Linked DNA regions of Homo sapiens. The protein of the gene in region 1 purifies or fractionates together with the protein of each later gene. This does not show direct contact. Each region holds a gene or a part of one and is shown in the gene's direction. Other genes may lie near its edges. The genes, in order: RGMA, SPICE1, SAMD4B, NBEAL1 and ANO3.

Region 1 (6,457 bases):
GATGGGTCAGTTGGCAGCAGCCGCTGCTCCTGGTGGGCTCCGCACAGACCTTTGTGGAGGGAGGGCCCGGAATCGATTAAGCTTCTGGTTACTGCCCTGAGACCAGATGGGTCTGCGGCTGCATAGGAGACCCGCATCATGCTTTTGGGCCTTGGGGGAGCTGGGTCAGTCTCAGCTGGTGTCCTGAGGAGGGACTTGTGGCAAAAGCATCTTGAAAAGCATAGAAACAGCTCCAGGCCTGCCCATCTCAGCCCCAGCCCTTCCACTTGTGTGACCCAGGCCCGCTCGAGCCCGAAGCCTCCGTGTTTGCATCTGCAAAATGACGATCAAAATTCTTGCCCTCTAATCGGCAGTAGCGAGGATCCAACAGGAAAGCAATGTGTCACCTGCACAGGCCCCGGGAGCGCAGGCTATTTTATTGTCACGATCATGTTTTGTTTTCTGGGGTGAGGCCCAGCCCACGTACCTACCCAACCTCCCTATGCAGTCCTGGGTGCACAGCCTCTTCCCCAGTGAGGCCCCCAAGACAAGAACTCTTGTCTTCGTTCGTCTTTGTGGCCCCGCAGCACCTTCGTGTTGCCCGGTATGGAGCGTGTGGAAATCCGAGAGGTGTGAAGGAAGAGGAGAATGCAGCTTGGGGGCTGAGGGCTGTGGTTTGCACCTTGCCCCCTTCAGGGTACCTGAGGGTGGGGTGGGTGGGGAGCTATTTAATGCCTCTAGGCCTCAGTTTCCCTGTCTGTTGAATGAGGATAACAAGTCAGTCCTGGGTCTATATTAAGGGCTAAAGGAGACACATGTACAATGTCTAGCCCACAGTAAATGCTCGATAACACATTAGCTGTTAGTTAAGCTCAGCCTCTCCCATAAATTGTGATTAAACAAAACAAAGTTAACACAAAACTGGCTGTCACAGAGCTTCCTTCCCGAGTCTCCCGGCTTTGCTCACATCAGTGCCTGCAGTCCCTTTAACACCCCTCTGGTGAGGTGCCCGTGCATGCCTGTAGCTCAGAAAGGTCAGTGAATTTGCCCACAGTCACACAGCTCTGGAGTGGCGGAGCTGGAGTTGATCTCGATGCTCTGCCCCACCACAGTAAGGTCCACCGCTGCGGTGAGACCCTCCCACTGGGCACTGCCCCATAAGAACATCTCACCTGTTGCCTGTCGACCCTGAATTCTCTCCAGTTCTCTCTGGGTGGGGAAATTGCAAGTATCCTTATTTTTCTTTCTCATATAGGATCTAAGGTCTCTTCATTTACTCATTAACAAGGGAAGGACAGAGGCAAACTTGTTGAAATTGTGCTTCAGGACCCAGAGTTTCTCACCGCATCTTCTCCCAGAAAATGTCTCAGCAGAAGAGGCATTTTAGGATGCCGTGAAAACTTGGGGAAGGAAGGGGTTGTGACAGGCAGGAAACCGAGTGCTCTCTGTCAGGAACAAGGACATAGAGACTGGACCACACAGGCTGTGGGGTACAGAGGTCTCCCAGCAGAGATACGAGAGCTCGATGTGCCACCCCCCAATCTCTCCCTCTGAAGAGCCAAGGGGATCATCCCAGGCCTGGGCAATCCCTGGGCGAAAACACGTCCTTGTCGGGAAATGGGAAAATGGGGTAGGTGAAGTTAAGTCAATCTGGTCCTTTGGTCTCTGGCCAGACAAATGTCTCCAGTGATACTGGCAGCTTCTGCAGAGGTGACTTGGGAGGGTGCAGGAAGGAGAGGAGGGAGGCGGCCAGTTTTCCCTCTATGACTGTCTCTTTAGCTTGGCCACCATAAGAAAATACCCCAGCCTAGGAGGCTTAAGCAACAGACGTTTATTTTCTCAGCGTTCTGGAGGTGGGAAGTCCTAGATCCGGTACCAGCATGGCCCAGTTCTAGAGAGAGGGCCCTCCTCCCGGCTCTCAGACTGTGGACTTCTCATTATATCCTCACGTGGCAGAAGGAGGGAGAGGGGGCAGGGAGAGAGAGAGAACGCTTAGCATTCTCCAAATGTCTTTATTTTAAGGGCACCAACCCTGTCGTGGGGGCTCCACTCTCATGACCTCATCTGAACCTAATTACCTCCCAAATGTCATCCCATAAGGGATTAGAACTTCAACCATCACATTTAGGGGGACAAAGTTCAGTCTATAGCGCTCTCCCTGGGCGTGAGTGAGGTAGTGGGGTGAAGCCACCTGGTGCCCATGGGAAGCGAGGCCCCCTCGACAGTCATGACCATTGACTGATCCTGGACAGTCAGTGGATTGAAGGAGCTGCCAGGAGTTGGGGGACCTGGATCCAGGTGGAATCCACTGCGCCCTGAGAGTGAGTGCCAGCAGGGCCTACCCCGGGGAAGGAGGGAAGAGGAGAGATGCCACATCTGCTGGAGCTTCACCAGGGAGGGGCAGGCTCCCTCCAATGCCCCTCCTGTCCCCCAAGTCTGTGACTTCTAACCTCTGACCTCCCGGGGCTGCAAGCATTGTACCCCACTGTGGCCTTTGTGGGGGACCCTGTTTGTTGGATGCCCCTGGGGCTCCAGGCACGCCATGTACATCTCCTCATATCCTCAGCGACCCTTTAAGGTGGACACAGTCTCTACTTGACAGTTAAGGAAACAGGCTGAGTCAAGTTCCCGAAACTACTGGTAGGGGACAGAGTGGGACTTTGAACCAGACACCTCCCTTCAGGGCCTGTGCTGGCCCTCAGCCCACCCAGAGCTGGGGCTGGCAGAACTTGGAGGGAATAGTGGGGCACGGAGCTCACCTCACCACCAGGGTCCTGAAGCCTACAGAGGAGTCGGGGAGACGGGGACCCTGGTTCCTGTGTGCAACGGTTCCAGAGTGTGACCTCTGCCACCATCTTTGAGTGGCAGGCAGACAGCTACGCCTGCTGGGTGAGGGGTGGTCTTGTTCTTAGAGTGGGTGGGGTCTGGGAGGAGGAGAGGAGCAGGAGAAGGTGCCCATGTGGAACGGAGAAGTGAAAGGGCCTCGTCTCAGGCGCTTCTTAGCCGCTCTGCATCAGGGCTAAGGTGGCCGCATCCCTGCTGTTTGCTCCTGGGGGCGCTGTCTGCCTCTTGCCACTCCTTTGCCTGCAGCCCCCTTCTCTGAAACTTCGCCACCAGCCCCCTCCCCATCCTGGGGAAATGTCGCCTTCACACACTCCGGGCTGGCCCGGCTCCATCAGGCACTAGCTTGGCTTCTGTGACCGTTGAAAAGAAAGTGAACCAACTCTGAAGCCTCACTACTCAAAGTGGGCCGGGGACCAGCAGCATGGGCCTCTCCTGGGAACTTGGTAGAATTGCAGAACCCCTGGGCTACTGGGGCCTGCCGAGCTGGGTCCCAGGCCACCCAGTACAGCCTCATCTGGGGCTACCAGATCCCACTCTGTGGCCCTGGAGCATGCGAGGGACCCCTCTCCGGGGTACCTGGGTGGGATTTCTGTCATGAACTGCCCACATACCCCAGAGTTCTGTAGCTGCGGTGCTGCTCTGAGAACAGTTTTGAAGGCTGTGGAGGTAGCAGATCCCGATCACGAAGCCAGTCCACTTAAAATTCAGGAGGCTGCGGAGTTACCCATTTGGAGGGTAGAGCCACACCTGGGCACCAGTCTGACCCTGCCGTCGAGCCCCTGCTCACCCTGGGAGGTGACCCCTTGGAACTTGTCTGCTGGAGGCAAGGCAGGGAGAAAGCGTGTGTGGATCACAGGCCTCCTGCTCCTGGGAGCACAGTGTCATAAGATGGGTCTTGCAGGAGAGGCTGGAGCCCACCCGTGGGGGAGGGAATCGGGTGTGCTAATGAGGTTGTGTGATGATGTGTGGCTGCCGGGGGCGTGAGCTCTCAAGTCCAGCGGGCTGGATTCATGTCCTGCCCTGGCTCCTTCCTGGAAGTGAGACTTGGGCAAGAAGTCAGCCCAGCAGAGCCCGGCTTTCCCCTGAGAGCTGGGGATGGCAGTCGCACCGGGAAGATGCAATGAGGGGAGGCCTGTACCGCCTGCAGCACCGGACCTGGGACGGAGCCAGCCAGCTGGGACTTCACGGTCCCTGCTCTCCTAGGTTCTACCAGATTTGGTCGTGGTGGAGAGTCAGAGCCCAGCACAGCTCCTGCTTGTGTTGCAGTGGGACCTGCTGTAAAGGGACAGGCAGTGTTCTTTCCTCTACTTTGGTCACAGTAAGTGCCACAGGTGAACCGGAGCTTGAGCGTGGCCATCCATTAACAGGAGACCAGTGTTCCTTCCGGTTGATTTTCTCTGACACCCACATCTGCATGATTCTGAGGAGGCAGAATGGCAGGTCAGCACACCGGGCCCCTGGAATTAGTGAGGCTGCCGGGACAGGCATTGTGTGTAGGCCACCGCGCCAGTCAGTTCCTGTGTGCTGGGTCCCTCCAAACGCTTGTTCTGCGTAGCACTCCCTCCCCATACACGCCCCCACCACACTCACCTCCTGTACCGGCTTTATCAGGGGGCGGCAGGGAAGCTACCACACCAACATTTCAAAGCCTACAGGTAGGTTGGGCCCTTGCACATCTTGTACAGGTTAAGGAGACGTGAAGACAGCAGGGCAAGAGAATCTTCTCGTTGCCTTGGGAGGGAGACCTCTCCTCAGGAGCACACCTGTGTAGGAGGAAGACTACATGGGGGCATCTCACCAGTGCCCCCCACGTATCTACCACAGCATCCCTTTACGGTGGTGTATTAGTCTGTTTTCACACTGCTGATAAAGACATACCCAAGACTGGGTAATTTATAAAGGAAAGAGGTTTAATGGACTCATAGTTCCACATGGCCGGGGAGGCCTCACAATCATGACAGAAGGCAAAGGAGAAGCAAAGGCACATCTTACGTGGCAGCAGGCAAGAGAGCATGTGCAGGGGAACTCCCATTTATAAAACCATCAGATCTCATGAGACTTATTCACTACCACCAGAACAGTATGGGGGAAATGACCTCCTGATTCACTTATCTCCACCTGGCCCCACCCTTGACACGTGGAGATTATTACAGTTCAAGGTGAGATTTGGGTGGGGACACAGCCGAACCATATCAAGCGGGCACCACCTGACTGTCATTTACCTAACCTGACCCTTTAAGTGAGTATACTTCTTCAATTTAAAGCTAATAAAATGGAAAATCTGTAGCTCTTCCATCAATTTTTTTTTTTTTTTTTTTGAGATGGAGTCTTGCTCTGTCTCCCAGACTGGAGTACAGTGGCGCCATCTCAGGTCACTGCAACCTCTGCCTCCCGGGTTCAAGCAGTTCTCGTGCCACAGCCTCCCGAGTAGCTGGGATTACAGGTGCGCACCACCATGCCCAGCTAATTTTTGTATTTTTGGTAGAGAAGGGGTTTCATCATGTTGGCCAGGCTGGTCTCGAGCTCCAGACCTCACATGATCTGCCTGCCTCGGCCTCCCAAAAAGTGCTGGGATTACAGGCGTGAGCTGCCATACCCAGCAATTTTTTTTTCTTAATGCACATTTAAATAAAGATATGACTTCTCAAATTAAAAGACAAAGTGTTCACTTAGGTATCACCTGAAATTACCTTGTTACTGGCAGTATGGCAAACGGGTCACGTGAAGGGGGGAGCCCAAATTTCAGATGAGCACTGACTCGCCCGTGCTCAAGTCTGTGATCTGGGAAGGTGACTTGTGCTCCAGTAGGATGGTGCCCACCCACCTGCAGAGGCGGGAGAGATCACCCAGGTCCAGGGCTGCACAATGCAGGCTGGGTTCACACAAGGCTGCTGGGATAGGTAGGCACTCGTGCTCGCGTTAGCCTGCCCTCAAATGTGTCTGTTCTTGGTTTTATGTGCAACTCAATTTTATAGGTAAAACCAGCACCAGAGACACAAACTGACCTTTCCAAGGTCACAAGCCAAGTTAGTGGCCCAGACAAGAGTGCTGAGGCTCCCTTTCCCCGCTGGAGACCACCCAGGCCAGGACTGGGCTGTGACCCCAGAGGCTGGACCTCCCAGCTGGTGTCCTGGCCCCTTTCTCCTGGAACCCATGTAGGAACTTCTGTCCTGCTGCAGGTCTGTGTGCCTGGCCAGTTGTGGTCACTATGGGCTGTGCAGAGGAAGGCCAGAAAAGGGCAGGTTCTGTGTGTTGAGAAGATAAGGTGTGTTAAAGCCATAGTTCTGGGGCACGGTCATTTTGGCTAATTGTCACTAAAGTCTCAAAGCTTGTGAGGGATCCAAGGTTACTACTCTCAGTTGCTTCTCAGCTTGCTTCTCTGAGCAGGACAGAGGATGGGGCTATGGTCAGCATAAGGGAAGCCAGTTCCTCTATGGCCAGGGCTAACAGAGCACTCATACCAGGCGACGTTCATTGAGTTTTGGCCGTGAATGCTGGGGCCAGACTAAGTCCTTTATACGTGATAAATCACTTCACACTCATCATCCCATCTTCCAGATGAGTATAACAAGGCACAGAGACGGGAGGCCATTTGTATAAGGTCATACAATGCCAGGACTGGGGACACATTTAA
Region 2 (6,457 bases), on another chromosome or scaffold:
ACTAACAAATGCTTTAAGGAATGTAAAAAGTCTCTGTACTTGATTACGAGGGGCGGCATTGCTGGTGTGTTCTCTGCTGAAAATAGTTTAAGCATTCAGAAGCCAAACCCTTCTACTGAAATACTTTTCTAACTACCATGGTGGGCTAATGAAATGAGTATAGTGCCAATCTATGGGAAAATAATACATATTTGTTATTTTTAAATTCTTATCTATAGTATTGAGAAGGACTGTTCAAACTCGTCCTGCTCCACGACTTCCTCCAACTGTGGAAATAATTGAGAAGGAACAAAATTGGGAAGAGAAGACCTTACCTATTGATACAGACATTCAGAATTCAAGTGAAGAGAATCGTCTCTTCACTCAGAGATGGAGAGTCTCTCACATGGGAGAAGATTTGGAGAACAAAACTCAGGCTCCTTTTGTTAACCTCTCACAGCCCCTCTGCAATTCCCATTCCAACACTCAACAGTCAAGAAGCCCCACATTCTCAGAAGAGCTCCCAGTACTGGGAGATGGGCAGCAGCTGAGAACAAATGAGTCATTAATACAAAGAAAGGACATAATGACACGAATTGCTGATTTGACATTGCAGAATTCAGCTATCAAGGCACATATGAATAATATTATTGAGCCCAGAGGAGAGCAAGGGGATGGACTCCGGGAGTTGAACAAACAAGAAAGTGCAAGTGACATGACTTCTGTGAGTACCATTTAAGGATTGATTAGGGACATATAGGAATTTAAATAGGAACTTTAGCTTGGGCAACTTAAGAAACTTCTTTTCAGAAGTGATCCTAGAAAGCTTTGAGGCTAGATGGCTTATGTTTGGCATGTCCTCAATACAATAGGTCCAAGTTATTTATCAGTCTGTTGTACATACAATACAAGACAGCATAAAAGGGAAATTATATAAATGAAAATAGGACAAAGATAAAATGCGTAGGAAAGCTAAGATTAAGTTAGGAATGAAGTTTTAGGTATAAAATATAGAATTAATGTTACTTGAATGTTTGCCACACAGCCACATGTTAATTGAAAATATTTTTATTTTTAAAATGGCTCATAAAAGAGTATTGGCCCTCAACTCATGAGTAGTTAATTTTTGAGGACATAGAATGGATTTTCCTATAGAAATGAGGTGGTTTTTTTGTTTTGTTTTGTGTGTTGTTTGTTTGTTTTGTTTTTTTTGAGACGGAGTCTTGCTCTGTTGCCCAAGCTGGAGTGCAGTGGCATGATCTCGGCTCACTGCAACCTCTGCCTCCCGGGTTCAAGTGATTCTCCTGCCTCAGCCTCCTAAGTAGCTGGGATTACAGGCATGCACCACCACACCTGGCTAATTTTTGTATTTTTAGTAGAGACGGGGTTTCACCATGTTGGTCAGGCTAGTCTTGAATTCCTGACCTCGTGATCTGCCCGCCTCAGCCTCCCAAAGTGCTGGAATTACAGGCATGAGCCACTGCGCCCAGCCTGTTTTGTTTTTTTGAGATGGAGTCTCACTCTGTTGCTCAGGCTGGAGCGCAGTGACGCAATCTTGGCTCCCTGCAACCGCCACCTCCTGGGTTCAAGCGATTCTGCTGCCTCAGCCTCCCAAGTAGCTGGGATTACAGGTGCGTACTACCACACCTGGTGAATTTTTGTATTTTTTGTAGAGGCGGGGTTTCGCCATGTTGGCCAGGCTGGTCTCGAACTCCTGACCACAAGTGATCTGTTTGCCTCGGCCTCCCAAAGTGCTGGAATTACAGGCATGAGCCACTGCATCTGGCCAGAAATAATGTTTTAAAGGATTATTAAAGCCAGACTTTAATATACATATTAATCATCTGGGGATCTTGCTGAAATGTGGTTTCTGATTGAGTAGGTCTAGGGTAGGACCTGTGCATTTCTAATAAGTTCCCAAGTGATGCCAGTGCTGCTAGTCTGAGGACCACGCTTTGAGTAGCAAAGGTCTGCATTTTATAGTGCAGGAGTTTTGTAAGTTAAATAAACTTTGTGGGCTAACCTGGTAACTTAAACCTTCATTTCGTTGTTTCTGGGGGAGATAGGGAGTCTAAATTCCAGCTAGGGAGGGTTTATAAAAGAGCTCCAAATGCTGGTTCCAGTGATGGTAGACACTTTCTTTTACCCCTTCTAGAGCCAAGGCCGCTCCTGTCAAGTTTCTGATAGGAGGAGCTGGGCACTGTCACTGGGGATTAGAAGCTCGTGAGGTGGCTGTGTTCATAAGGGCTTTAACAACAGTGGGTTGGAGGGCTTTGGTGAGGAAGGTTAGGGTGAGGTGAGTCATAGGGTAAGGGCCATCTCTGTCAGCACTGGGTCATGGGGAATAAGGACAATATGGGTATTGAATCATAGAAGTAGACAGAAGGAACTGGCAGAAGAGGAGCCAGAAAGGAATATTGCTAGTAGGGAGCAGCCAGCCATTGGTAGTGGTGTATATAAGTAAATATCAACTGCCTCAATTTTGAGTCACTGGGAGGCATTTATATATTTGTAGTTTTGAAGATTATTCATAACAGGCAACTCTTGGTTTAAAAAAGACAGCAGAGTCTAATGTTTTGCTTGCCTCCTTTTCTAATTAGTATGTAGATCAAGCTGGAAGGGACTATCTAATATTTCTGTCTTCACTACCCTCTTTTGTTTTAATTGGAAATACAAAATGATCTTTAATTCATACTGATTTTCCTATTTATTTATTTATTTATTACTAATAGACATAAGCTAAAAATCAGTGATTTTTATTAGGGATTATTTTTTTCCAAAGAGAAATGAAATAACTAGGACTGAAATAATGACATAATTAGGAATAATGAAATAATTAGGAATGACATAAGCACATTTGGGGGGGGAATTTTCAAATTAAATTTATGCTATATTTTTTGGGCGGCTATTTTTTACCCTACCTCTCATATTTCTTTCCAATCACCAACTATTCTTGAATCAGATACCTTAGGCCAAAAGTGGCTTGGGGAGGCTGACATATGGTTAGAAGGAGTGACAAGATTCCCAGAATCTTTGCCAAATGGTGCATATTTGAAGCCTGTAATTATAGAAACTTCTGTTTCCAAGATAGCAGATCCTCTTTTGTAATCTGTCAAACTGCAGATCTGTCTTCAAAGATGTGTGGCATTTACTTAGAGACCAGCTCACTTGGAGCAGTCTCTTTGCTCATGTGATCTTTTGTGCAGCTCTGCAGATACTAAGAGATACAGAAAAGCTTTTCCCAGAATATATGCTTAAAGGGACTGTAAATTCTATTGTGTGCTCACTATTCACATTTATATATAATAAGGGCTATGAATACTAACTTGCTGGCCATTAGTAAGTCAAAATTGTGTGAGATCGAGGTGGGTGGATCACGAGGTCAGGAGATGGAGACCATCCTGGCTAACACGGTGAAACCCCGTCTCTGCTAAAAATACAAAAAATTAGCTGGGCGTGGTGGCAGGTGCCTGTAGTCCCAGCTACTCGGGAGACTGAGGCAGGAGAATGGCGTGAACCCGGGAGGCAGATGTTGCAGTGAGCCGAGATAGCGCCACTGCACTCCAGCCTGGGCAACAGAGTGAGACTCTGCCTAAAAAAAAAAAAAAAATCGTGGGAGAGATTTTTCAGTATTCAGTATTCAATTTGTACTTTTTTTTTTTTTCTCCCAAAGACTTTTCCAGTAGCACAGTCTCTAACACCAGGTAGTATGGAGGAACGGATTGCAGAATTGAATCGACAAAGTATGGAGGCTCGTGGAAAACTACTGCAGTTGATAGAGCAGCAGAAACTTGTTGGTTTGAATCTTTCTCCACCAATGTCACCTGTTCAGTTACCTCTCAGAGCATGGACTGGTTGGTCACAAATTCATGATTTAAAAACTAGAAATATGAAGGTTTTCAGTTTTCTTGATTTTGCAAGTTTATATTAAGCCAAAAGAAGTATCAGAGCATATATTTTGGTGCCTTCAATTTTGCACAGAAAGAAATAGCCCTAACTCACAGGATAAGTGACAGAAATGGGATTAGAAGGCAGATCTCCTGATTATTTCTATCCTATGATGCCTATAGTTAATCTTTGGTGTCTGAGTTCCTAAATTATCGTACATCTAAATGGGATTCATTATAGTGTACGGTTCACTTAGGTCATATGCTGCAACTAAGCATGAAATATCTGAATGTTCATTTAGAATTTCATCAGCAATGAATTACAAGTTATTATTCTGTAAAACACTTAAAACATTTTCACTCAATTAAATTTTTTGTTACATTTAGGAATGTGAAAAGCTAGAGGGGATTCTGAATAATAAAATAGTAACTGAAAAAATTGTCATAGTATTCACATTCAAAAAGATACTGATGAAACGAAGTATGTATCAAGTTGCTTTTTATCAGAAATTGCATTATTAAGGCCCTCAAGGGACAGCTACATGAAGAGTACTGAGAGATTGATTTTGGCCCAGTAAAAGAGAAGGCTCTAATTGTCAGGAATAGAAAAAGCTCCATGTACCAGTAATTGATGTGTTCTCTGAGATGTTCAAACATTGGTGTTTGAAGGGGACTCATATGTCTTATTTCTGGTTGAAGTAGGTTACCTTTAAGATACCTTCCAATAAGACTTTTCCCCTCAGAAATTATTTCCTTTTTGAAATACAGACCCAGAAAGCAGACTCTTTTGGAAATTGCTGGAAAAAGATGGTAATGCATTTCCCCAGGGCTCTCTGTTTATTCTAGGCTTCCTCAAATGACAGTTTTGTCTACTGTTCTTCATAGTTATGAAGCCTAGAGACAACTTCTGATTAGAATAAATAAATCAATTAACTATATATGAACATGTACTATGTGCGAACATGTACTATGTGCGAACATGTACTATGTGCGAACATGTACTATGTGCCTGCCATGTGTGGGCTTGAATACTCTAGCATTTGAGTAGGGGAGCAGGCAACAAACAAATCAATATTTGGGATAATATCAGTTAGTGCTAAGTGCAAGGAAGAAAAATAAAGCAGATCAGCCTTAAGAATAATTTTGTGTTTAAATATACATCTTCCATTTCAGTATTTGTGTATGGTTAAAATATGCTTTTATTTATGTTATGTAATTTAGTCCTCAACATACTTTAAGAGGAGACAGGGCTAATATTATACCTATTTGATGAATAAGTAAACTGAGGTACAAAGAGGTTATGTGATTTATCAAGTTACAAAGCAAGTTGTGGATTTGCAACTGCGTTCTTTCCTGTCCAGTGATTTATCTCTAAAGTATTCTTTTTATAAGTAAAATTCTTATATTTGTTTAAAAAAAAGCTGCTGTGGACTATAATGATAAAAATAAAAATAAACCATATATCATGAAAAACCTCTTTTGTTTTCTAGGGTAACTGAGGAATATTTTGTAAAATTAAATAGGGTTTTATTACCTTGTAAAGCCAGGAAGTCACACAAAGTCAGGAGCCTCTGTGAAACTGCCTGTGATGAACATTAAGTCTTTCATTAGTAAATACTTAGTAAATATGCTGATTGATTACCTACTTCTGAAATATGGAAAATATTCATAATTATACTTGCTATTGGCCATATGGAGCTCTTCAGCCAACTTTCCTCTCCTACTTTAATGTCTTCAGTAATAGTCATAATGTAATCGATTTAAAAGATTTAAAGTTTTACTGAATGACTTCAGAAATTTTCTTTTTCCTTTTTTTTTGGGAAAACTTTAGGTAAGCTCTTTTGGACAAAGATCTCAAGCTCTTTAGGGCTAGCTCTTAATTCCTGTTTTTCACCTCCAGAGCTGACATGATGCCACTTGTCTGAAGATTTTGGCTCTCTATGAACTGGCATGCTACTGAATTAACACTAGTAACTAAAGTTTCTTATCCCACAGTTCAGTAAAAAAAAAAAAAAGTCTTTCAAGTGTATCTTGGGCTAAGATTAAAACAGATGGAAAGAACCACCAAATTTTTAATGTGCAGTTTGCAGTAAGATAGAAATTGAGTGAAATTTTTATTTCATTGAAAGGTAATGGAACTAATATTTATTTTTATATTTTAGAAGGAGCAAAGAGGACAATTGAGGTATCTATTCCAGGAGCAGAAGCCCCAGAAAGCTCAAAATGTAGTACTGTCTCTCCCGTCAGCGGGATAAATACAAGAAGGTAAGTTGCAGTGTGAATATTTATTTAAAAAAAAAAATCAAAAAGAATTTGGTATGTATTTTATTCTCTTTGTGAAAAAAGGAAGTGTACAGTATCTGACTTAGGTTGAGACAGACTCATGCAAAGAGAGTAAAATAATTGGAAAAGAGAATTTTGAGGGGAAATGGAGTGAGGAATAAACTTTAAGTAGAAAGGCATGGGTTTGCTACTGAAAACAAAAGTGAGATAACACGTATGTAGAGTACTTACGGGTTACAAAATTAGGAGATGATGTATGACAGGACAGCTGAATTGACCAATAGTATTTTCCTCCTTCACAGTAAATG
Region 3 (6,457 bases), on another chromosome or scaffold:
AAGGGGAGTTTGGGAGGAGGCAAAGGCTAGAGAGGCATGAACCAAGTGGTGGGTTGTGGGAGAGGAACAGGGGCCAGGTCCTGCATGGCCTTTTAGGCATGTGGAAGCATTTGTATTTTGTTCCCACTATGAAAGGAAGTCACAGGGATTTGAGCAGGAGTCAGGCTCGGTCAGATTTGCATTTTTAGAAGGACCTTTATGGCTGTTGTGAGGGGCGTGGACTGTAGGAGGCAAGAGTGAAGGCAGGAAACCAATGAGGAGGCTGTGGCAGTAATTCCTGCCAGGGGTGCTGGTGGCTTGAGCCAGCGGAACTGGAGAAATTCAGGAAAGTGGCTGACAGCTTGCTGATGGGTTGGGTGTTGGAGGTAAGAGAATGAGGTATATCTGGTAGGCAGTTACCCTTGGACCCCAGGTCCCTTCCTCTTGGCAGGTTATGGGGCCAAACTGCCATCCTGGCACTGACGGCAGGGGGATGGTCTCCTGTGGTTGGGTCCCCAGGTCTAATATTTTGCTTTTCTCCCACTCTGGCCAGGTCTCCCCTGCCAAATCCACCCTAGCCCACTGAAGCGCTCCATGTCACTCATCCCTACAAGCCCCCAGGTCCCTGGTGAGTGGCCGAGTCCAGAGGAGCTTGGGGCCCGGGCTGCTTTTACCACGCCCGATCACGCACCTCTCTCGCCCCAGAGCAGCGTGGCCTCCTCTGGCAGTGAGCAGACAGAGGAGCAGGGCTCCAGCCGGAACACCTTCCAGGAGGATGGCAGTGGCATGAAAGGTACATTGGGGACAGCAGCACCAGGACCCTTTTCCAGGGGCTTCTGCAGAGCTTAGAGGACAGAAAGGAGCTTGTAGCTGACACCTGCTTACCCCTCTGAGGAGGGGACATGTCTGAGGGGAGTAGATAGTCCCTGCTTTTAGGGCTCAGGACTAAGCAGAGAGACCCCACATCTACCCTAACAAGTTCTAGTCTGACTGGGAAGGAGCCCCCTGTCTTCACACACCCCAGTCTGACAAGGAAGCCAGGACACAGCTAAGTGATGGAACAGAGGTTCCAGCAAGAGTTTTGGAGCAATCAGTGAGGTCATCCTGGTATACATCCAGCCTAGCAGCTTAGAAGGGTCAGATGTCCTTCCCAGGGAAGGCTGCCTGAGGGTCTGGCTAGGCAGATGAAGAAGGAGCTGATGGAACCTTAGCTCCCCCCAACCCCCTCCCAATTTTTTGCATCTTTTGAGGCTTCCTGTGGGTTTATCCCCACAACTTTTCCTTTACCCTGGTAATCTGGGCCAAACTCCTGACCTTTCACTCTCCCTCCTTTGCCAAAGATGTGCCCTCATGGCTCAAGAGCCTCCGTTTGCACAAGTATGCAGCCCTCTTCTCACAGATGAGCTACGAGGAGATGATGACACTGACTGAGCAGCACCTGGAGTCTCAGGTGAAGCCAAGGGGACCATCAGGGAGGTGCTGGGGGCAGCGCTAGTTTGGCATCCTTGCAGCCCAAGCCTCCTCTGTCTCCTTGATCTCTATTTGGGTACCCCCAAATATCTCAGCCTCACATCTCTAGCTTCCTGTCCCCTTCTGCCCTTATCACAGAACGTCACCAAAGGTGCCCGCCACAAGATAGCCCTGAGCATCCAGAAGCTGCGTGAGAGACAGAGCGTCCTCAAGTCCCTAGAGAAGGTGAGGACCTGGTTTCTGCATCTTCAAGGCCAGCCAGCCACTTGGTGGTACCAGTAGACCAAAGGCCCTGAGTTGGCCTCCAGACTCCTCGGATGTGGCCTCCAAAATTCCCAGCCCTAGGGACCCAGACTTCAGGGACCACATGCAAGCCGGCATCAAAAGGCTCACTTGCTGGTGGCTAAGAGTCTCCCCTCCCTGTCTTTCCTGGTTTGTGGTTCCAGGATCTCTGTCTTTTGACTCTACACCTTCTCTCCCCTTTTGCTTTTCCATTTCTTACTGGTCTTTCTGGTAGAGCAGAGTGTCTCTGTCTGTACAATCTCTCTTTCCATTTGATTGTTTCTAAACTCATTTTCCTTCCACATCTGATTCCGTTTCCTTGCCACTGCCTTCTGTTTGTATTTTTCCCTGCTCAGTGTCTAGGTCTGAATCTCTGATTCTATCCTTGTTGGGTCCTTGAGACTCCAACATTAGACTGGCTTTTCGTGAGTTCTGTGGGACTTCATCTTAATGGGAAAGAGGAAATGTGTACCTATATGTTTGTGGGCTTGCAGTACCCTTACATGCCTTCTCTATGTGCTGGAACCCAGGGTCCTACCCAGCCTTCTGCAAGCCCTGTCTGACTCTCTGTGTAGATACTCTCTGTCCCTCATTGTAGGGTCTGCATGTGACCCCAGCCTGTGTCCTCCCATCCAGGATGTGCTGGAAGGCGGGAACCTACGAAACGCTCTGCAGGAGCTGCAGCAGATCATCATCACTCCCATCAAGGCCTACAGTGTCCTCCAGGCCACCGTGGCTGCCGCCACCACCACCCCTACTGCCAAGGATGGGGCCCCGGGGGAACCACCGCTGCCAGGTGCTGAGCCTCCCCTAGCCCACCCCGGCACAGACAAAGGCACCGAGGCCAAGGACCCTCCAGCTGTGGAGAACTACCCACCTCCACCAGCTCCAGCTCCCACTGATGGCAGTGAGCCTGCCCCGGCTCCCGTCGCCGACGGAGACATCCCCAGCCAGTTTACACGGGTGATGGGCAAAGGTGAGACCAGCCACAGCCTAGCAGGAAATCCTGAGGCAGAAAGCCAAGTGAACCCAAGCACCAGGGATCAAATCCAAGTTCGATGGTGGGAGCAGGGCTTTGTAAAGCCTACTGGAGACTGGAACACTACAGAGAGTAGCCAAGACAGGGTGACAAGGCCCCTTGCCCTTGGGCACGTCTGGGCTGATGGTGGATAACAGCCCTTCCCCTCAAAGCGTCTCCAGGCTGAGCAGAAATGGGGCAGTGGGTCAGAAGAAATTCCATGTAGTAAAGGGTGAGCAGTTGAGGGGAGTCCATTGATTTCTCTCAGAGGGGACCAAAGTCCAGGGGATGGGGATGGTGAAATTTATCACAGCTTCAGCCTTTCCTAAAGCAGCATGATACAGCAGACTTTACACTTGGATCCAGATCAGTCTAGATCTGGATCTGGACCTGAGGCAAGTGACTCAACTCTGAGCTTTAGGTTTCTAAGGCTAAAAATGTGTGTAGTGACAAGATTGTGTCAGGCACTATGTTGTATATCCTCATGATAACCCAAATACCATGGCTAGCACTTAATAGTTGATATTCATCCAGCCTGAGTCTCCTGTTCCTTCTTGTGCACGAGCCAGCTGGAGGCTGGAACATGGCAGAGGGCATACTAGGGGTTAACCTCCTGCCCTTTCTCATGTCCCCCCAGTGTGCACCCAACTGCTGGTGTCCCGACCAGACGAGGAGAACATCACCAGTTACCTCCAGCTCATCGAAAAGTGCCTGACTCATGAGGTAAGGCCTTCCCTAGCATACTCAAAAAGGGAAAGGCGGCCAGGCGTGGTGGTTCACGCCTGTAGTCCCAGCACTTCGGCCACCGAGGCGGGCGGATCATGAGGTCAGGAGATCGAGACCATCCTGGCTAACACAGTGAAACCCAGTCTTTACTAAAAATACAAAAAATTAGCCGGGCGTGGTGGCAGGTGCCTGCAGTCCCAGCTACGCGGGAGGCTGAGGCAGAATGGCGTGAACCCGGCAGGTGGAGCTTGTGGTGAGCCAAGATCGCGCCACTGCACTCCAGCCTGGACGACAGAGTGAGGGAAAGCCTGCCCCATCTTTCTCAAGACCATTGTGTTGTATGTGGCCCATAGGGCCTTACCTGACGTGGCACATGCCAGCCCTTCCAGTCTTGTATCTTACCAGTGTTGGCTTTAGAGGCTTCTTCTCAGAACCCTTGTACACACTCTTCCTCTCTCTCTCTCTTTTTTTTTTTTTTAATAGAGACGAGGTCTCACACTGTTGCCCTGGCTGGTTTTGAACTGACCTCAAGTGATCCTTCCACCTCAGCCTCCCAAAGTGCTGAGATTACAGGCGTGACGATTTTCTTTTTTAGAGATGGAGTATTGCTTTATTGCCTAGGCTGATCTCGAACTCCTGGCCTCAAGCGATCCCCTGCCCTGGCCTCCCAAAGTACTGGGATTATAGGCATGAGCAACCATGCCCAGCCCGTACATACTCTTTTGTCAGCAACAGTACCCTTTCCTCCTCCTCACCCCTCAGCTGTCAGTTCAAACATTTATACCTCAGGGACACCTTTACCAACCCCTCATTTTTATTTAAGTTTCTTTTGCTTCCTGTTCTTCTCCCTCAGGGAGGGATAATTTGTCACAGTTATCATCATGTATGTATCTTTCCCTCACAACCAGACTGTAAGCTCTCTGGGCATGGTCACCTCTGCATCCCAGAATTGCCTGGCACAGGCACAGAGTAGATGAGCAATGAATCTTTTTTTTGGAAACAGAGTCTCGCTCTGTTGCCCAGGCTGGAGTGCAATGGCGCAGTCTCGGCTCACTGCAACCTCCGCCTCCCAGGTTCAAGTGATTCTCCTGCCTCAGCCTCCCAAGTATCTGGGATTACAGACACACACTACCATGCCTGGATAATTTTTGTACTTTTAGTAGAGGTGGGGTTTCACCATGTTGTCCAGGCTGGTCTCCAACTCCTGACCTCAAGTGATCCACCCGCCTCAGCCTCCCAAAGTGCTGGGATTACAGCTTGAGCCACCACGCCCGGCCAGGCAATAAATATTTGAACAAATGAATGGAAGACTGGAAGGGAGGTCTGAAGGAAGCATCACCCTCTCTGCTTCACCGGTGTCCTGCCAATTCTAGGCTTTCACGGAGACGCAGAAGAAACGGCTGCTATCCTGGAAACAGCAAGTGCTGAAGCTCCTCCGGACATTCCCGCGCAAAGCCGCACTAGAGATGCAGAACTACCGGCAGCAGAAAGGGTAGGCGGGTGGCCAGGTTACAGGGACCTGCCCTCCATAGGCCTTTGCTGGTTAGCAGATCGTGCTTAGAGGGGTGATTGTGTTCTGGGCTGAGAATCTAGTTTTATTCAGTCACTGGGCGACTTTCCCAGAAGAAAATTTCCACTAGAATAGGATGCTGAGCTGAAAAACAACACATGTCCCATGAGCAGGCCCCTCATATGTACCTTGCTCCTCGCCTGTATGCAGAGGGCCTGGAAGTCCCTCCTTAGACCAGACAAATAACAGAAATGTCTCCTTTGAGAATTGAAGATTGGAGAACTGTTTTGAGTGGACAGTGAAGAAACCCTTGTACATGTCCCATCTCCTTCCAGGGGGTACCCTTGGGGCAGATGAGGACAGAATGTGTGATGGAGGTTTATGTTCTCTCCTACAACTTGGGGTTGTTGGGGAAGGTGAGGAAGGGGTGGACAGATAGGCCCCATCTATGTAAATTAACACCCTGCCTTCTGCTCTCTCATAGCTGGGCATTCGGCTCCAACTCGCTCCCCATAGCTGGCTCTGTGGGGATGGGAGTGGCCCGGCGTACCCAGCGGCAGTTCCCAATGCCTCCCCGGGCCCTCCCACCCGGCCGGATGGGCCTCCTGAGCCCCTCGGGCATTGGGGGTGTCTCCCCTCGACATGCCCTCACCAGCCCCAGCCTTGGAGGCCAGGGCCGACAGGTAAGCTGGCTGGAAGCAGGGGCCTGGCCTCCTGGGGTTGGGGTGGCAGTACCTGGGATGTCTATTTGCCTGTATACTCTGTGTCTGGACCCAGCTTAGAGGTGGCGGGGGTGGGAGTGGGAGAAGGCCTGTACCACCTCCACCACTCTTGGGTCTGGGCCTCTTCTGCACTCACTACTTTCTCTCTTCCTGGGACCTGTGTAGAACCTGTGGTTTGCCAACCCTGGAGGCAGCAACAGCATGCCCAGTCAGAGCCGCAGCTCTGTGCAGCGCACCCACTCGCTCCCGGTCCACTCGTCACCCCAGGCCATTCTCATGTTCCCTCCAGGTGAGGTGCCCCACCCTTGGGACTCTGCCTGGCCAACATCCTCAGCTGACCTTTCTTTTTTCTCCTGGGTCTCATGTCCACTGTTCTTCTAGACTGCATTGGCACCTCTCCCCATACCTCACACCACTCTGCACCCATCTCCCCCAATTGTGGGGGGTTGTTTTCCTCCTCTGCTTCAATTTTATCTCTCAGGTCTTGCCCCCACCCCTCTGAGTCATCATCTCTCACCCCTTACTCCTACCCCATCTCATGTTTCCCACCCTATGTCATAATCTTAGTGTCTGTGTTGCTCTTTGTCATCATCTCTTTCTTTACAGGATCATTGAATACTCAACTTAGAAGGGGTTGAGGGGATGGGACAGTTAAAGTGTGAGATTTCTGTGGAGGGGAGTCCTGCCCATCAGCCTACTGGGATTCTTTCAGATGCCAGGTGACCACACAGGAACCAGTGGACTTCACCT
Region 4 (5,367 bases), on another chromosome or scaffold:
GATGTGAGTCAGGGCTAATAAAAAGCTATAGAAGAATTTTCTTTCCAATAAGTAAAAATCCTCTGTTTTATTAAGGAAAAAATAGCTATGTTTTAGGTAAATAACTCTGAAATAAACTGGTACAACAATTGTAAAATAGAACATATTTAAATGTCAAGGTGTCTTTTCTTAAGACTTCAGGAATTTGTATTGAACAAAGTCTCAAGTTAAGTAGCAATAATTATGATGCATAAATGAGACTGGCATCTATTCATTTATTTTATTCTTTTTTGGGGTGATGGGAGGTTTCAATCCAGTGCTTCACCCGTGGTGCCACCGTGGCTATCTTTTTTTTTATCTTACAGTTTTTTAGGAGATTTCAAGTCGGCAGAACTAACATGATTGATTTTTAGTTTTTAAAATACTGATTTTTTTAGAAACTTTTTCTAAATCAAAACCTACTAAGTTTTATTTTGTTATTTATCCAGAGATTTTGATGTAAAAATGCCTTCATTTTTAAGATTACTTAATACTGGATTTGAAAATTATTTTGGATGCTTATAAGTTTTCTAAAACTTAGATAATTAGAAAAAATGCCTAAGTTTATGATGTTTTACTATGCTGCTTTTTAGATGGAAGAAATAAGCAGTTTTTACTTTATAGTACAAATAAGTTTTGTTCACAATAAAATAGATATCCTACCTGGACTAATACTAGATGTACAAGGTAGTGGAATTATTTCTTATATTGCTTTTTCCAAAAAGTAAAAACCAAAAATGTGGGCCGGGTGTGGTGGCTCATGCCTGTAATCCCAGCACTTTGGGAGGCTGAGGCAGGCGAATCACAAGGTCAGGAGTTCAAGACCAGCCTGGCCAACACAGTGAAACCCTTTCTCTACTAAAAATACAAAAATTAGCCGGGCATGGTGGCACATGCCTATAGTCCCAGCTACTTGAGAGGCTGAGCAGCGCAGGAGAATCACTTAAACCCGGGAGGTGGAGGTTGCAGTGACCTGAGATCACGCTACTGCACTCCAGCTTGGGCAACAGAGTGAGACTTTGTCTCAAAGAAAAGAAAAAAAATATGGAATTTAGAGAAAAATCTTTGAGAATACTAGCAACAGTCTAGAGAATGGAACTTAAATTTTATCTGTTAAAAGAAGCAAACAACTATTAGTGAATAATATATTACTCATTTAAAGAGTATAGCCTACTGAATTAAAAATCACTAGATAAAATAATTGGAAAGAAGTACTTTTGAGAATTCTGGTATATTTAGATGTTACCCATAGAAATTAGTTATATATTATATAATGGGAGAAATGAACAGTATCATTGGAATGAAATAACAGGTGGACATTTCAATTGGTGAATATAGTATCTCAAGTTGGCTCTTACAAAGTCTGTTACCTGGCCAATTGTGGTGGCTCACGCCTATAATCCCAGCTCTTTGGGAGGCCGAGGTGGGCGGATCACAAGGTCAGGAGTTCAAGACCAGCCTGGCCAACATGGTGAAACCCTGTCTCTACTAAAAATACAAAAATTTGCTGGGCATGGTGGCAGGTGCCTGTAGTCCCAGCTACTCAGGAGGCTGAGGCAGGAGAATCGCTTGAACCCAGGAGGCAGAGGTTGCAGTGAGCCAAAATCGCACCACTGCACTCCAGCCTGGGCAACAGGGCAAGACTCCATCTCAAAAAAAAAAAAAGTCTGTTATCTTTGCAAAACTTTTTGTATGCTTTTGTTTCTTGATACTGGTGATGACAAAAATAAAAATCTCAGCATCCTGGTGATAGGAAGAGATTTATACCAAGATAATTATTTTACTTTTGGAAAATGAGATCAAGTATTAAAACATGTAATAGCTGTGCACGCTTAGAGAATAAAGAACCTTTATAAAATTTTTTTACAACTGTTTGCAATCAGTATTCTGGCATTACTCAGATAAAATTGTAAGAGAGAAAGAAAAATAGATCAGGGCATAAAAATCAGGAAAGTATATAAAAATGAAGTTTGGCAAGTTGGTTTAGTCTTTCTTTTTAGCCTGTGAAGCTCACGTCTGTTATTAAGTTAATAACAAAATTAAAATCTGTTAACTTTGTTTAGGTCACAGTGCAGTGCATCCTTTTGTAGAAGAAAAAATACCAAGTGTTCATTCTGTCATTAGCAAGGAACACCAATGAGGTTTCTTTTTTTTCTCTATTTAGGGCATATTAAAATTATCCTTCAGAGTACTTGTATTGAAAATCAAGTTTATGCTTCTGAAAAGAATAAGTGGGCTCTCAGAATTAGAATTCAGATTTGACGGTTGAATCTTAAGACATTTTATATTTTGTGTGAAAAGGAGTGGTCAGGGGAAACTGTTAACTTGGATACCAGATTTTTATTTAATGATGATAGAGATATGACCTTTGCCTTTATGTATATTTTATATTGTTACTACTAAAGAGACCACTGAGGAAATCTTGTAATTGAACTTAAGGAAGTTAGCTCCTTTTATATATTTATAAAATGAGTAGCATTATCTTTACCACCTTTCCACTGAAAAGATGCAAGTCCTAGGACTATATTAAATATAAATATTATATTATTAAATAATATATGTAATATGGGTGTCTGTTGGGGTTATGTGTGTGTAAAGATTGGTCTTTTCAAATATGTATATTTAAACCTGTCTTCTGGAAACAGGTTCTTGAACCTATCTTTAGGATACAGTTTTTGACTGGGATATAAGAAATGAAACATGTTTGTTTGTTTCCTTTTTGTTTGTTTGTTTGCATCATCAGCCATACTCATGGCTTATCCTACGCATTGTTCCTCTCATCAGCTGAAACTGTTTCTCCCCAATAAGTGAGCAATCTTAAACATTTTCATCACTCTTTAACAAAATCCATTCTCAATATTCTTTTTGCTGAATTCGTATATTGTATATGCTCAACATATTATTTGTTTTAAACTTGACTCCATCCAGAGCATTGTTCTATAGAGTTTTCCTGTATTTATCAGAGTCATGTGGTATTTTTCTTGATGACCTTAGGCAACAATATAGTGTTATCAGTCATCATTTTAATATGATTTAAAATGTGGACCACAGCCTGCCTTCTTTAGTTTAAATCTAGGCCAAGCATGGTGGCTCATGCCTATAATCTCAGCACTTTAGGAGGCTGAGGCAGGAGGATCACTGGAGCCTAGGAGCTCAAGACCAGCCTGGGCAGCATAGTGGGCTCCACCTCTACAAGACATTAAAAAATTAGCCTTGTGTGCTGGCAAGCGCCTGTAGTCCTAGCTGCTCGGGAGGCTGAGGCAAGGGGTTTGCTTGAGCCTAGAGATCAAGGCTGCAGTAAGCTGTGATTGCACCACTGCACTTCAGCCTAGGTGGCAGAGTTAGACCCTGTCTCCAAAAATACATTTTTTTAAATTTAAATCTGGCAGTTTCTAGGCCAGTGGTTCTTAATGGATATTACAGATCAGACTTCTCTGTGGAGTTTATAAATATACAGATATGTAGGCACTGCTTTGGACTTCATGAATCTCTTTGCTTGATATTCTTGGTATTAAAAAATTATGTCTGAGGATTATTATGTTATATCCTAAAAATTTTTCTGCATAGAAATTTGTCCATTTATCTTTATATACCAGATCCAATATTCAGACTTATTTGAAAATAGGCTTAATCATTATCCTGAGGGACATTTTGTCTAAAATTTGCTTGGAATGGCTTTATTATCTTTGTTTTGCCTGCCACAAAAACAACAAAATCTCCTTTCAATTGAGTTATTTTTATCATGAACTCTCTTTAGACTGTTCACATTTGAAAATTATAACTAATATTTGCCTCCAGAAAAGTACATCTGTTTGCTAATATTAGTTCCTGGTGACTTTCAGTGAACGTTTTGCAAACTTGAATTAGGCAACATTTTAAAGAAGAAAAAAACATGACTAACATGCTAAATTTAAAACATAAAAGTAGATCTCTTAGAGCCTTGAAGCTTGTAATCAATAGAATTTTCCTAATTAAAAAGCATTGGGTAAATTATCTACTACTTCCAATGACTTTTGCAGGTACAGCCTCTGTATGGAAATAATCTTTAATTTTTTATAGGTATAACAGAGAAGAACGCATTAACATTTAAGATGTTTAATTCCAAATAGGAAATAATTCAGTTTTCTGTGTTAAGAAATGTAAGGCCATCCTAGAGTATAGGAGTTACGTGATTTTCTTCTGTATAAAAATCTCATTTAATAGTGGCTGTATTATCAGATACTTATTTGATTATAGTAATTCATCAGACACATCTCCTTCGTTTGGTGATTATCTCATTGATCTTTGTCACACGTGAGTGATTTCTAAACACATTGCAGGATTTGGACCTGTAAAGCCAGTGGCTTTAGTGATAAGTAAAAGGGCACATTCAACAATATTTACCTTTGTCTTAATGCCCATAATCTTATGAACTGAAAATTCAGAAGGAAAAGAACAAATAGAAAGCTACTAATTCAATATTTGTTTTTCATGGTACGGTTTTCATGTTTCCTTGGAAACATATTTTGCAAATATAACAATAATAGTAATAACACAATTTTGTCATTTAAAAAATTACCCATTCATTTTTCAAACTTGACTGTTAGTGGAGGGGTATATGTGTGTCTGTGTTTCCACTTATGTAATGGCTGTCTCATTATTTAAATTAATTTATAATTATTTTTCAGTGTACAGAGTGATTAGCGGCTTGTAATGCTGTTACAATGTAGCATTGTAATGTAAGATGAAGAAAAATTAGGATTTAGGTGGGATTTTTAAAAATTTATCAATTCAGCTACTTTTTAAAAGAAGTCCTATTCCAATTGGACCTTTAAAATTTTTATTTTGGTAATATTTCAACTTAAGATGTATTAAAACTAGCAATTCTGTGGTAATCAGTGTACTAGTCAACATTAAAATGCTATTTTGGGTTGTCTTCTTTTGGTAACATATTCTGACACTAAGCAACATGTTTTACAATTTAGTGGGATGAACCTACAAATTCATAAATGCTTCTCTTTATTTTGAAGGAAAAAGATACTTGTCTGTATACGACATAATTGTTTTACTCTTCAGAATGTGAAAGTTATATTAATCACTAAACACTTTAAGAAGTGGTTCTGGTAGGATATCAGTAGTCAGACTTAATTGAAAAACTGTCAGCGTCTGTTTTGTATATAGGGATTAAAGAGGATAACTTTATTTTTTCCTTTGGAAAGAATAATTCTTTTGGAATTTTGGAATTTTGATTTTCTTAGATGACTTTTTAGCAATTTAATGATAATAATTTCTATTTTTCTTCCAAAACTATGGCATGTTATAGTAGATCTTACTATTAAAGATCTTTTATATTTTAAACTGTTTTTTTCC
Region 5 (6,999 bases), on another chromosome or scaffold:
TGAGACGGAGTCTCGCTCTGTTTCCCAGGCTGGAGTGCGGTGGTGCGATCTAGGCTCACCGCAAGCTCCGCCTCCCGGGTTCAAGCCATTCTCCTGCCTCAGCCTCCTGAGTAGCTGGGACTACAGGCGCCCGCCACCGCCCGGCGAGGGGACTTTAATTCTTTTAACTAGTCCTGCTGACCAGGGATTGAATTAAAGTTTAAATTTCAAAAATATTTCTGATTCTAAAACCGGTGATTTAAAAGGGGGTTTTAAACATTTAAATGAGATCTACAGGGGTCATAACTGACTAGTAAGTATTGGGTGTTAGTTTTCTGCCATTCTTAAATTCATTGTCTAATCCTCACGTAGGAGAATTGGGTTGCATTAGAATCAATGAGTTGGTTCACATCAGAATGATCTGTAAGCTGAGTTCTATCAGAATTTTAACTCTGGATGAACAAAATTTAAAAAAAACATCCTCGAGCAAGTCATTTATTCTTCTCGGTTTCAATGCCCTCATCTATACAATATCTGTATTAAAAGCCCTTACGGAGACAGTCTCTGAACTGTGTTTTAGATCTTCATTTGGAGGTGAACTCACACTGAGTTCATTGTCTGTAACCAAGTATTTCTTCAATGCCTGCATACTGAGCTCTTATTGAATGCTCAGCATTTCTTTCTGGAAAGACCATTATGATACATTAAAGAAGGTAGCACATTGTTTGCTCTTCCTCCCACTGAGAGTAGAATCCAATTTCGCTTTTTGCTTCAGATGACTTTAAGACCAGTTACTGAACAATCAAGAGAGACTCTGAGAGATAACTGCCTGTCTGAATCTAGCCCACCTGCAAAATCCATAAGTAATAATAATAAATTTTAGTTTACAGCTTAGTTTCAGGGTAGTTTGTTATGCATCCATAAATAATTGGAGCATCTGTTTGTTCAAAGCTATATTCCCCTCATTCTTTTGTATCATGCACCACAGATGAATCAAACAGCATACAATAATAACTCAATATTTTTGAGGTATCGAAAGTTTGGAAATTTCTGCATATTTTTTATCTGCTTTTATTTGGATTATTCACCTGATTCTGAGTTGATTCCATAAAACTTCAAAACTGAGGAAGCAACGGACTCTCACGATGTGTCTGTTCAATAACATCTTACATCTTCCAGGAAGAACTTAGGGCTTTGAATCAGGGAGCAGAGATAGATGGAGGAAAGGAGATCCTACTGAAAAATGTGTTCAGCTAGCTTCTGGTCCTATTTTGGCCACTGCAGTTTGGTCTTTCAAAAGTTACTTCAAAGTGGGAGCTGAATGATGAGAACACACGGACACAATGGGGGAACAACACACACTGGGGCCTGTTGGAGGGGGAGGGAGAGCATTAGGAACAATAGCTAATGGCTGCTGGGCTCAATACCCGGGTGATGGGGTGATCTGTGCAGCAAACCACCATGGCATACGTTTACCTATGTAACAAACCTGCGCATCCTGCACATGTACCACGAACTTAAAATACATGGTGAAGATATAAATAAATAATAAAATAAAACTTCTCAAACTAAACAAAAAGAGTTACTTCACTTCTTTGGGTATCGGGTGCCTTCTCTTTCAAATAAGGTGTTGATTTATGTGGTCTTGAGAAATCTTTGTTGCTCTGATCTTAAGTTTCTTTTTATAATATTAGAATCATAGTTTACCTACATTACAGGGCTTTTATGAAGATTAAATCGAGCATCGTGGGTAGTGTTTTTTCAGCCCCTGTGACTAAGTAGGTTATAAATGGTCCTCAGTCATCATCATCATAAATGATTCAAGGCCTGAATGGCAGAAGAAGAAGAGGAAAACTCAAGTGAAAAGTGCTAGACATAGAACACAGCTTACCTAATAAAACATGCTACTGGCTAACTAAGCTGGGGTGGCTTTCTGCCCCCTCTACTTAAATTTAAGAAAGAAAAACAGAAACGTCTCTGCATCTGCCACTGCATACCCTCTCAGAGCACAGACCAACTTTGCCCTTCCTTAAAAGTCCCAGGGTTTACCTACCAACTTTTAGGAAATAAATAACCAGCCTCAAAGCTTGGCAAAGAGGGCATCAGTATCAGCTCTAGAGGTTTGCTCCGATTTATATCTCCTCCTCCAGTAAAGTCTTCTGCTCCCACTCCCAGCCAACCCCGCTCAACGCCCACCCCTCACTGTGGCACTGGACGCGCGGGGGATGCGGGGTTGTTCCCAGAGTAGCCGCTAAGGGGAGCCGGACGCTAGACCGCCCTCCCGCGTTCCCATGACAACGACACCGGCGGGCGCGTAGCCTGGAGAGCGAAGTGCCGGCTACAGCAGGTGTCGGATTGCAGTGCGCTCGCTGAGGCTCCGGACCTTGGAGCGTCTAGAGTCTGGCTACTGTTCCTCCGCCTCCCTCTCGGGCAGCTCCCTAAGCCGGCTGGGACGCGCAGAGTGAAAATGGTCCACCATTCAGGCTCCATTCAGTCCTTTAAACAGCAAAAAGGTCAGTTGGAATCTTGCTCCCCTCTCCCTGCGGGCGTCACTTCCCCCCTGCATGCCCTTGCAGTTGTGTAGGAGCATCCTTTGCAGGCTTATGCGACACAGAGGTGGGGAACTCTGTGAAGTTAAAAAAAAAAAAAAAATTAAATTCCTCTTCACTCTGCATCCTAGATGAGTGATTTTCTGAGCCTCCGCACAGTGCCTGGGAGTATCGGAATTCGTCATTTCAGGACTTGACTTAATGTATATCTCTGTGAAGACTGTTTCAATGCACTGCAGTAAACCCGCTTAGTAGGGATTGTCCGAATAGCTCAGTAGAGCTCTGAGGGGTGAGGACAGAAATGTTCAACAATATCTGCCGTCTTCTGTGGTTCAAATGTTGAGTAATCTTCACAAAAGTGTGTCTACTCCTTGAGACGCATTTACACAATCATAAGATAAATGAATTCTTGGGGGAGTTCCAGAGTTGGCCTGTTGCAGTTAAAGGGGCTCTGTCACTTCCTTGGGAAAATTTATTGTTTGCCCATGTCCCATGCTTGATTCTGGGTTTCAAGTTCTTGAGGTTAGGTTTCTCTTCTAGGGGCTTCGTATTATGTCTTTTAGTTTCTCCCTCAAGTTTCTTGCTGGGCATAGTGACAAGAATCTGTATGTTCAAGTTATCCTCACTCTTTGATCTTTGTTTCTTATTTGGTTTAAAAGGCTTTTTACAGAGCATTTTTATTTTGAGGCACATTCACAGTTTTTGGAGTTTTATTATCCAGAAGCATTAATTAACACAATTGCCACTTTGCTGAATTAATAATGGTAATTATGATACAGTTAACCATAGAGTGCCTTAGATGTGTGAATTCTGGAATGCTGAATTTGTTCATTCAAAGTAAATATTTACTTAAATATTCTCATCCCCACCCTCCAGATATTATTTGTATTTCTTTCATCAACAGTTGTTTTTATGTAGCTCTTTGACTTTTTTTTTTTTTTTGAGGTGGAGTCTCGCTCTGTTGCCCAGGCTGGAGTGCAGTGGCGCGATCTCGGCTCACTGCAAGCTCTGCATCCCAGGTTCATGCCATTATCCTGCCTCAGCCTCCTGAGTAGCTGGGACTACAGGCGCCCGCCACCAAGCCCAGCTAATTTTTTTGTGTTTTTAGTAGAGACGGGGTTTCACCGTATTAGCCAGGATGGCCTCCATCTCCTGACCTCGTGATCCGCCCGCCTTAGCCTCCCAAAGTGCTGGGATTACAGGTGTGAGCCACTGTACCCGGCCCTTGACTTTTTTGTTTGTTTTTAACAAAAACTAGATTAACACACAAGAAACAATTTCGAAGGGATTCCTGCGTAAGACAGAATATGGGACTGACTGAGTTTCCAGTTCCATAATTCTGTACTCAGTTCAAGCCCAAGTTCTCTAGGATGTTTCAAATATATGTTGAAATTGGGAGTGATGTGTGAGACTGTAGGGGTAGACAAAAATTTCACCTAGTATGCACTTCTACTTCAACTCTAAACATTTCAAATAAAGTTAAACTGCTTCAAGAAGTTGTGTTCTCTTTAATCATGGTTTTAAACATACATAAACTTTCAGAATGAAGACAAAGATGATAGGAACTTTGCAACAGCCTCACAGAATAAATACCTCCACTGATGCATTGGCTATGGGTGACTCATTTCTGGGATCTGGAAGCTTCAAATGGCCCCCACAACAATGTATTATGTATGGATACATGTTGTGTTTTTAAGAAGGAAATAATTGACAACTGTAGGTCCGACCGTCATTGCTCAAAGAGAGTGATAAGAAATTGTGCAATTGCTGGCATTTCACATTGTTTCCTTTATGATGCATTATGAGCCATTTAATTTCAAGTCTTCCTTTACTCTTTGGCACAAAAGGCAACTTCAGCAAAAGGATACAAATCTAGAGGAGGAGTACTCCGGTAGGAAGGAAGCAAGATTCATTTTAGCTAAGTGGTTCTGGTTAATGGCTTCTTAATCCTGCATGGGCATTAGGAAAAAAACAGACCAAATTGAGGATTAGCTATTTTTATTCTTCAAATAGGAAGAAGCAAAATAATTCTCTAGATGTGATCTGTCCTAGGAGGTATGCAACAACAACAACAAAACATTCAGATGTGCTTTTCACCATAAAATTAACCTGAAAATTGCACATTAAAATGGAGAAAATTCTGTAGTGGAACTCTGTACTCCTAGGTTCTAAGCTTGCGTTTGTTACTAGCTGAGAAATCTTCAACAAAGTGGTTAATTTCTTTGGACTTTGCTTCATACATAACATGAACAGAATACATTCCTAATCCCTTTGGCCTTTTCTGTCTCTCTTCCTCTGTTTAATGGGAGGGACGGTTTGCATATGAAGGCAGAGATGATTTCTTCTGTGACCAGATAAAGAGGAGAGCCTTGCTTTTAGTTTACTTTTACGAATTAATTTAGCTGAAAAATCCAGTTGATGGAATTTACTTTTGTTTTATTCAAGTGAGCTCAATGTCTCTTTTAAAAATTTTGATTTCAACTTGAAAATATCTAGAAATAGCCTGATATAACTAGAAATCACCCTTGTTATATTATTTTTAAAGTTTCCACCCTTAATTGAAAAACAGACACACTCAATATTTAAACTCTACACAAGGCATAGGGATTCTCCTTTATATATGAGAACTATGTATTAACCAATCCCCGATCAAAATTGGTTTTGATAGGTAAGTATAAGTATAGTATAGATAAGTATAGATGCCAGACTGGTTATCTGGGAAATGAAATACTGTATGTAAGCCCTAATTTATTAATTTAATCTCTGGTCTTTATTTTGAGCCCTGGATATTAATCCAATATATTCTACTTACAGGTTATGTCATTTAATATCACTAAGCCACAGTAACTGCTTATGTGAAATGAAGATAATTATGTCTATCTTGCAGAGTTATAAGGTGTTTAGCAGTTTGTCTGACACACAGTTGGGGCTCAAAAAATTTAGTGATTTTCCTTACTAAAATTCATCTAGGCTCATTCACCTTTGGTTGGCTCTTTAGTAGTATATTGGACTCTTAGCAGTTCCCTTATAATTTCTTGCCTTTTTTTTTCTTTTGCATCACGCAGCTTTATTACTTTGGGATTCATCTTAAGGAAAACAGTGGACTCCAGACCATCTATGGATGGTTTTTTAAAATAGTCTGGAGTTAACTATCACAAACTCTCCTCAATTCATATGTCCATCCCTCAGGAAAACTTCCAAAAAATTCCCATAGAAATTTTTAGGTTTGTAATTAACTTTATAATCTAAAATGTTTTTGCAAGAAATGGTATTTATTTACTGTCCACTCTTAAGTACCATGCTTTTGCTGCGTGTATGCCAGGGACTGTGCTTAATAATAGCATTATTCAGTCCTCTTTTGTTGCTGAATCTGTTGCTGCAAAACCCTCCTCCTTAAAGGACTTGCTACTATAGGAAGTTTGAGAGATTTGCTAAACACCTTTACGAGAATTGCAGACAACTCTGCACTTCTGTAGGAAAATGTTGACGTTTTGTTTTTTGGCAGTGCCAGTTGTGTTTATGAAGAAGATATACACAAATAGTTTTGAATTTTACTCCACTGTAAATTTTAGATTATCTTATTAGGAGGCTTAATAGGAAGTAAAAAGTGAGACATCTGTGCAGTGGTGGGGAGGGGGAGGCAGTCTGCTTATTTTTGATGTCCCAAGGGTAAATTGGAGTGTATTATGGTTATAGACAACTGGGAGCATATGTTTGCTTTTGTCTTAGCACATCTTGTAAAAACACATTAGCTGACACATCAGCAGTGATTTCTGGGGAAAGTCCAACTTTCTTCCTAGCCTGGCTTTCCATGTTTTGCTTGATTTATGATGAGCTCATGTGTCATACAAGGGTGGGCAAGAGAAAGACAATGATAGTTTTGGCTTCTGGTGGCTGCTCTTTACCAATACAGCTACCAAGACTTTTCATAGAACCATAGATCAAATCAAACACAGCCTGTCCCAAAAGACTTTGGCTTAATGGGATCAGCTAAGGCTGTTAAGTGATTCATCATTATCCTAAAGGACATTTGGTTAAAACAGAGAGTGTTTTTAGTAATTCCATAGAAATAAGCATTTACTACTCACATAACTCATTTAATAATAAGAATGTTTTACACTTATATGGAGACTTACAGTCTAAAGTATTTTCTTTCTCTTTTTCTTTAAATAAATTTGTTGCTATTGCAAGTGCACACCCGTAAAGCCACTTGGCACAACTATCCTGCTTTGTGTCAAGTTCTGAATTCAAATTACCTAGAAGGACAATCCTGGGAAAAATATCTAGTTTCAGAATCTCTGATATCCACTGTTTTCATCTCCTTTTCCCCTAACTGACATCCTTACAATCTAGAACCTCCCTATACCCTTATCTTAGAGAAATAAGAAAAAAAAACTGGAGCCATTTATACAGTGACAAAATTTCATTAACTCATTGTGCTAACTCTTCCTGGTATTTTCACAGTCTATTC

Evidence for each region.
Region 2: the proteins of RGMA (region 1) and SPICE1 purify together in Homo sapiens (affinity purification with mass spectrometry; one large-scale study listed by BioGRID and IntAct). This does not show direct contact.
Region 3: the proteins of RGMA (region 1) and SAMD4B purify together in Homo sapiens (affinity purification with mass spectrometry; one large-scale study listed by BioGRID and IntAct). This does not show direct contact.
Region 4: the proteins of RGMA (region 1) and NBEAL1 purify together in Homo sapiens (affinity purification with mass spectrometry; one large-scale study listed by BioGRID and IntAct). This does not show direct contact.
Region 5: the proteins of RGMA (region 1) and ANO3 purify together in Homo sapiens (affinity purification with mass spectrometry; one large-scale study listed by BioGRID and IntAct). This does not show direct contact.

Annotation. Positions count from the first base shown.
Region 1 is NC_000015.10:93,052,914-93,059,370, reverse strand, and holds part of RGMA (repulsive guidance molecule A isoform 3 precursor), read left to right. Parts: intron 1-6,457.
Region 2 is NC_000003.12:113,447,712-113,454,168, reverse strand, and holds part of SPICE1 (spindle and centriole-associated protein 1), read left to right. Parts: intron 1-218; coding exon 219-703; intron 704-3,652; coding exon 3,653-3,833; intron 3,834-6,028; coding exon 6,029-6,131; intron 6,132-6,457.
Region 3 is NC_000019.10:39,375,118-39,381,574, forward strand, and holds part of SAMD4B (protein Smaug homolog 2), read left to right. Parts: intron 1-532; coding exon 533-772; intron 773-1,319; coding exon 1,320-1,429; intron 1,430-1,587; coding exon 1,588-1,674; intron 1,675-2,329; exon of another isoform or gene 2,330-2,367; coding exon 2,368-2,707; intron 2,708-3,386; coding exon 3,387-3,472; intron 3,473-4,848; coding exon 4,849-4,967; intron 4,968-5,469; coding exon 5,470-5,668; intron 5,669-5,872; coding exon 5,873-5,996; intron 5,997-6,457.
Region 4 is NC_000002.12:203,218,814-203,224,180, forward strand, and holds part of NBEAL1 (neurobeachin-like protein 1), read left to right. Parts: 3' UTR 1-5,367.
Region 5 is NC_000011.10:26,329,830-26,336,828, forward strand, and holds the start of ANO3 (anoctamin-3), read left to right. Parts: upstream 1-2,300; 5' UTR 2,301-2,446; coding exon 2,447-2,492; intron 2,493-6,999. UniProt on the Homo sapiens protein: Has calcium-dependent phospholipid scramblase activity; scrambles phosphatidylcholine and galactosylceramide.